Homo sapiens: one gene and its partner. The protein of the gene in region 1 interacts with the protein of each later gene in a pairwise test. Each region holds a gene or a part of one and is shown on either strand. Other genes may lie near its edges.

The links. Proteins that work in one complex are often made in the same cells at the same time.
Region 2: the proteins of ADORA2B (region 1) and TPD52L2 interact in a two-hybrid assay, tested with the Homo sapiens proteins (one large-scale study listed by BioGRID and IntAct).

The regions. Positions count from the first base shown.
Region 1 is NC_000017.11:15,972,440-15,976,348, forward strand, and holds the end of ADORA2B (adenosine receptor A2b), read left to right. Parts: intron 1-2,239; coding exon 2,240-2,903; 3' UTR 2,904-3,307; downstream 3,308-3,909. UniProt on the Homo sapiens protein: Receptor for adenosine. The activity of this receptor is mediated by G proteins which activate adenylyl cyclase.
Region 2 is NC_000020.11:63,871,538-63,875,269, reverse strand, and holds part of TPD52L2 (tumor protein D54), read right to left. Parts: intron 1,603-3,732; coding exon 1,454-1,602; intron 1-1,453.

The DNA.
Region 1 (3,909 bases):
TACATATGTATTATGGACCAGTTGTTAATAACAAAATGTGTACCTTTGCTATAAACCATGGATAGACTAGTGTATAGCAAAATGTCTAAAAGGGATATTATGGCATCTGTTGCTCTTATAAGGTCACTTCCTTTCTTGGTCACCTCTTAGGCAGAGGTGGCCGCTCCCATTCTCTTGCCCCATAACTCACTTGTCATAGAGCCTGCTTATCTGATACATGTTGTATCTCTCAACTGGATACTGGTCAAACCTCTTAAGGACTAGGATCTTGTCCCTTTGTATTGGTATCCCCAGTAGTGGTTTCTAGTATTTTTTTGTTGTTTGTTTTTTTGAGATAAGGTCTTGCTCTGTCACCCAGGCTGGAGTGCAGTGGTGCAATCACAGCTCACTGCAGCCTCAACCTCCTGGGCTCAAGTGATCCTGACTCTCCCACTTCATTCTCCCGAAATAGCTGGAACCACAGATATACACCACCGTGCCCGGCTAAGTTTTGTACTTTTTTGTAGAGATGGAGTTTCACCATGTTGCCCAGGCTGGTCTCCAACTTGTGATCTAATGGCTTGAAGATGACCAAAAAATTTAATATTTGCTATTTCCCAATTTTTATCAACTCTGCTGCTAGTATTTCTCAGTAGACAGGGGCACTGCTAGACTCTTGTTCTCCAGCAGTCTGCAGAGGTATTCAGAAATGATTCTGCCCATAGTCCTAGGCAAATGTCTTGTGGTGTTTGTGGGAAGCCAGAAAGATCCTTGCCTGGAGCCACAGGTGGTGCTGACTCCAGTGCTTACTGCCTCAGGCCTTTGTTCAAGTGTCACCTTATCCATGATGTCAGCCTCTTTAAAACTACAGTCCTGCCCATCCTGATCTTTCTTACTCTGCTTTTTCATGTTTCATACCACATATATCTCCATACTGTTTATTATTATGTTTACCCCTGCTAGATCTGAGTCTGTTAAAATTTAGTAGGGATCTCTGTGTGTTCTGTTCACTGATGTATCTCAAGCACTTAGAACAGGGTTCCTCAACCCCTGGGCTGCAGACTAGTACTGGTCCGTGGCCTGTTAGGAACTGGGCCACACAGCAGAAGGTGAGCAGGCAGGCGAGCATTACTGCCTGAGCTCTGCATCCTGTCAGATCAGCAGCATTCGATTCTCATAGGAGCTAACCCTATTGTGAACTGTGCACGCAGGGGATCTACGCTGTGCGCTCCTTATGAGAATCTAATGCATCACCCCCCGCCCCTGGTCTGTGGAAACATTGTCTTCCATGAAGCTGGTCCCTGGTGCCAGAAAGGTTGGGGACCACTGACCTAGAACAATGCCTTACAGAAGACCTAGACTCAAAGAGCGGTACCTAGGTAGGTAGGAAGTATAGGAAGTCGATCGGTTTTTGGAAACTGTGACTTGAAGCAAAATGATGCACTGTATAACAAAGCCAATTTTACCACAGTTGATACTGTTAAAAGAAAAACTTCGGCTGAATTCAATTTAAAAGAGCTTAATTGAGCAAAGAATGATTCACAAATTGTGCAGCCTGCTGAGCCAAAGCAGGCTCAGAGACTCCAGTGCAGTCACGTGGTGGAAGATAATTTATGGACAGAAAAAAGAAAGTGATGGACAGAAAAAGGAAAAGTGACGTACAGAAAATGGAAGTGAGGAACAGAAACAGCTGGATTGGTTATAGCTCAGCATTTGCCCTTTTTGAACAGGGTTCGAACAGTTGGCCACATTTGATTGGCCAAAAGTCGAGGATTGGCATGAGTGCAGGCTATAGTCTGTTTACACGTCCACTTGTTGTAGTCCACGATGTACAGAGAAACCTTTAGGCCAAATTTAAAATATGTAAGGAGGCAGCTTTAGGCTAAACTTGATTTAACAATATAAACAAGAGTTAACTTCCTATGACATATACTTCAAGTCACAGTTTGAGAACCCACCGAGGACATTGAGGACTTACAGTACTCCCTTAAGGCTTCCCCACCTCTTGTCATTGGCCATCCTGTGTCACTAAACAGAAAGGAGTTGCTAAGTCAAGAATGAAGATCTTACTGAGTTTTCTAGAGCAAAGCTGCTCATCCCTGCTTGCATGTCTTTAGTATTGAGGGTAAAGGCCTTAGTGCCCTGGAAGGTGAACTTTAGAGGTTGTTAAAGGGTCATGGAAAAAAGAGGAGGTGGGGTCTTGGATTGTGGTTGCAGAGCGCTATAAACTGACCGTAACAGATGGTATTCTTTTAAACAGGTATAAAAGTTTGGTCACGGGGACCCGAGCAAGAGGGGTCATTGCTGTCCTCTGGGTCCTTGCCTTTGGCATCGGATTGACTCCATTCCTGGGGTGGAACAGTAAAGACAGTGCCACCAACAACTGCACAGAACCCTGGGATGGAACCACGAATGAAAGCTGCTGCCTTGTGAAGTGTCTCTTTGAGAATGTGGTCCCCATGAGCTACATGGTATATTTCAATTTCTTTGGGTGTGTTCTGCCCCCACTGCTTATAATGCTGGTGATCTACATTAAGATCTTCCTGGTGGCCTGCAGGCAGCTTCAGCGCACTGAGCTGATGGACCACTCGAGGACCACCCTCCAGCGGGAGATCCATGCAGCCAAGTCACTGGCCATGATTGTGGGGATTTTTGCCCTGTGCTGGTTACCTGTGCATGCTGTTAACTGTGTCACTCTTTTCCAGCCAGCTCAGGGTAAAAATAAGCCCAAGTGGGCAATGAATATGGCCATTCTTCTGTCACATGCCAATTCAGTTGTCAATCCCATTGTCTATGCTTACCGGAACCGAGACTTCCGCTACACTTTTCACAAAATTATCTCCAGGTATCTTCTCTGCCAAGCAGATGTCAAGAGTGGGAATGGTCAGGCTGGGGTACAGCCTGCTCTCGGTGTGGGCCTATGATCTAGGCTCTCGCCTCTTCCAGGAGAAGATACAAATCCACAAGAAACAAAGAGGACACGGCTGGTTTTCATTGTGAAAGATAGCTACACCTCACAAGGAAATGGACTGCCTCTCTTGAGCACTTCCCTGGAGCTACCACGTATCTAGCTAATATGTATGTGTCAGTAGTAGGCTCCAAGGATTGACAAATATATTTATGATCTATTCAGCTGCTTTTACTGTGTGGATTATGCCAACAGCTTGAATGGATTCTAACAGACTCTTTTGTTTTTAAAAGTCTGCCTTGTTTATGGTGGAAAATTACTGAAACTATTTTACTGTGAAACAGTGTGAACTATTATAATGCAAATACTTTTTAACTTAGAGGCAATGGAAAAATAAAAGTTGACTGTACTAAAAATGTATACTTGTTGCCAGGAAGGTGACCTCAAAAATTAAAAGTATAATTATTCGGCCGGGCATGGTGGCTCACACCTGTAATTCCAGCACTTTGGGAGGCCAAGGCAGGCGGATCACGAGGTCAGGAGTTCAAAACCAGCCTGTCCAATATAGTGAAACCCCGTCCCTACTAAAAAATACAAAAATTAGCTGGGTATGTGGCATGTGCCAGCTACTCAGGAGACTGAGGCAGGAGAATCATGTGAACTTGGGAGGCGGAGGCTGCAGTGAGCCCAGATGGCATCACTGTACTCCAGCCTGGGTGACAGAGTGAGACTCTGTCTCAGAAAAAAAAAAAAAAAAAAAAAAAAAAAAAAAATATATATATATATATATATATATATATATATATATATATATAAATAAAGTATTCAATCAAGAAACTGCTGTATTAATTTAGGGAAATGATTGATTGATAGTCTCATAAGTCAAATTTTCATCACATAATTTTAAGCTCCATTCTTTTCCATATACAGAAAACTACCCGTGGGGAAGAAACTGGTGAAATGGGATCCCTCCTCTACCAAATTCTGCCTTCTAGAGCTAGATAGATAGATAGGGAATTTTG
Region 2 (3,732 bases), on another chromosome or scaffold:
GTCCCAGGGTTATAGGACCACGTCGTCATGTAGGACCACGTCGTCATCGGGGAGGGTCAGAGTCCCTAGGGTTGTGGGACCATATGGTCCTATATATAAATATATATATATATATATTTTTTTTTTTTGAGACAGAGTCTTGCTCTGTCACCCAGGCTGGAGGGCAGTGGCATAATTTTGGCTCACTGCAACCTCCGCCTCCCGGGTTAAAGAGATTCTCCTGCCTCAGCCTCCCTAGTAGCCGAGATCACAGGTGCGCACCACCACGCCCAGCTAAATTTTTTTATTTTTTAGTAGAGACAGGGTTTCTCCATGTTGGTCAGGCTAGTCTTGAACTCCTAACCTCAAGTGATACACCCGCCTCAGCCTCCCAAAGTGCTGGGATTGTAGGCATGAGCCACCATGCCCGGCCCATATGGCCATATCTGGGTCAGAGGCTGTGACCATGCCACACCCACAACAAGGACCACAGAAAAACCGCTCTTGCCAAGGACCTGATCAGTGCTCTCTCAAGTCTGGACCCTGAAACAGTCTTCCTATCATTTTCCACCAGGACAACTAGCCAGTGTGTCTGCCTTTTTAGAACACGTATATAAGCCGGATGTGGTGGCTCACACGTGTAATCCCAAGCATTTTAGGAGGCCAAAACAAGAGGATTGCTTGAGCCCAGAAATTTGAGACCAGCCTAGGTAGCAAAGCAAGACCCTGTCTCTATAAAACGTGAAAAAATTAGCCAGGCATGGTGGCGCACGCCTGTCATCCCAGCTACGAGGGGGGTTGAGTTGGGAGGATTGCTTGAACCCAGGAGGTTGAGGTTGCAGTGAATCATGATTGCGCCACTGCACTCCAGCCTGGGTGACAGAGCGAAACCATCTCAAAAAAGAATAATAATAAAAAAAAAAAAAAGGCCAGCGTGGTGGCCAGCACTTTGGGAGGCTGAGGTGGGTGGATCACAAGGTCAGGAGTTCAAGACCAGCCTGGCCAACATGGTGAAACCCCATCTCTACTAAAAACACACACACACACACACACACACACACAAAAAAAAAAATCAGCCGGGCGCGGTGGGAGGCGCCTGTAATCCCAGCTACTTGGGAGGCTGAGGCAGGAGAATCGCTTGAACCCGGGGGGCAGAGGTTGCAGCGAGCTAAGATCACGCCACTACACTCCAGCCTGGGCGACAGAGTGAGACTCTGTCTCAAAAAAAATAATAATAAAGTACACAAAAACTTAAAAATAAATAAAACACATGTAGACACCAAGCTTTTTGAACAAACAAGGCACAGTCGCTGGGCCAAGGGCTCAGAGCCTCTCTCTGGATCCTTCCAAACAGGCCACTCAACTCCACGGCTGCAACTCGTCCCTGGGCATGACGACGCCCCCCCACATGCCGGGGCACGTGTGGTGCCCGTTCTCTTCAGCCCCCAGGGGTGCGCCTGGGGCAGGTACCTACGCGCTAGAGACCTGCACGTCATGCCAGCTCCTGGACAGGTTCTGTTTCAGCTCCCCCAGGGTGGAGAGGCCCAGCCTCCTCTTGAGCTCTCCACAGTGCCTCTCCTTGGCTGCCAGGACCTGGCGCAGAGTGACAATTTCCTCTTCCACCTGCAAAGCATGCAGTTGACATGATGAGCCATCACTACTGCAGGAAGTGACTAACATCCTCATGCACAGTGCCATGAGTTACACAAGAACTTTCCGCTTACCAAAGCATTAACTCGTCCTAGGAATAACAGCATCTACAGCAGACATCTGATTTTTGGGTTTTGGTTTTTTTTTTTTTTTGAGATGGAGTTTCGCTCGTCGCCCAGGCTGGAGTGCAATGGCACGACCTCGGCTCACCGCAACCTCTGCCTTTCAGATTCAAGTGATTCTCCTGCCTCAGCCTCCCAAGTAGCTGGGATTACAGGCGTGTGCCACCCTGCCCGGCTAATTTTGTATTTTTAGTAGAGATGGGGTTTCACCATGTTGGTCAGGCTCGTCTCAAACTCCCAACCTCAGGTGATCCTCCCACCTCAGCCTCCCAAAGTGCTGGGATTACAGGCGTGAGCCACCGCGCCCAGCCAGCAGACATTTGTTTTTATCTGGTACTAGGAACTTGACTCCAGGGAACTATCCCATGCCCCACAACTAAATGGTTCTGGGAGAGCTACCAATCACCATGTCCATTTGTGGTCATGAGGAATGGCCCAGGATGACCATGCCAGGTTTGTCCGAGCTCTTTACTAGGACTGGGCATGGTATTAAAAAGGTGAAGACCGGCCGGGCGCAGTGGCGCATGCCTGTAATCCCAGCACTCTGGGAGGCCAAGGCGGGCGGATCACGAGGTCAGGAGATCGAGACCATCCTGGCTAACACAGTTAACACAGCGAAACCCTGTCTCTACTAAAAAATACAAAAAATTAGCCAGGCACGGTGGCGGGCACCTGTAGTCCCAGCTACTCGGGAGGCTGAGGCAGGAGAATGGTGTGAATCCAGGAGGCAGAGCTTGCGGGTGAGCCAAGATTGTGCCACTGCACTCCAGCCTGGGTGACAGAGCGAGACTCCATCTCAAACAAAACAAAACAACAACAACAAAAAAATGGTGAAGACCCTGGCCGGGCACAGTGGCTCACGCCTGTAATCCCAGCACTTTGTGAGGCCAAGGCAGGCAGATTATCTGAGGTCAGGAGTTTGAGACCAGCCTGGCCAACATGACAAAACCCCGTCTCTACTAAAAATACAAAAATTAGCCAGGTATGGTGGTGCACGCCTGTAACCCCAGCTACTCGGGAGGCTGAGGCAGGAAAACTGTTTGAACCCAGGAGACAGAGGTTGCAGTGAGCCGAGATCATGCCACTGCACTCCAGCCTAGGTGACAGACCGAGACTGTTTCAAAAACAAACAAACAAACAAAAAACAGTGAGGATCCTTTTCCCTCAGGGCTCTCAGTCTGGGCTTGGACAATAGAAGCTGGAACTGTTGGCAGCCGGGCACCGTCTGCACTCATAGAATTCCATATGCAGAGAGGAGGAGGCAGATGGACAGTGACACAGGTGACAGAAAAAAACACCCTTAAGAAAACACTTGTGTTCCTGAGGTCAGTTCCAAACCTTGGCAAGAGTCAGTTACACGAACCAAAAGGTAAATTATCTTTTGTGCTTAACGTAGTTAGAACTGAGCAACAGAAAGATTCCTGATCATGAAGACTTGAACTTTCTCAGGTCTTTAAAAAAAAAAAAAAAAAAAAAGAACATGACCTCTGAAAGGGGCATCATTCAAAGCTTTACCACTTTAGAATGAGTTCTCAGTATCTTCAGCTCATATATGACTAGCTTCTCTTTAAAAATTCTCTTTCTTGGCCGGGTACGATAGCTCATGCCTGTAATCCCAGCACTTTGGGAGGCCGAGGCGGGCAGATCACCTGAGGTCAGGAGTCCGAGACCAGCCTGACCAATATGATGAAAGGCCGTCTCTACCAAAAATACAAAAATTAGCCAGGCGTGGTGGCATGCACCTGTAACCCCAGGTACTCGGGAGGCTGAGACAGGAGAATCACTTGAACCTGGGAGGCAGAGGCTGCAGTGAGCCAAGATCGCACCATTCCACTCCAGCCTGGGCAACAAGAGCAAAAAGTCTCAAAAAAAAAAAAAAACTCTTTCTTGCGTGTAATCCCAGCACTATGGGAGGCTGAGGCAGGCAGATTACCTGAGGTCTGGAGTTCGAGACCAACCTGGCCAACGTGGTGAAACTCCG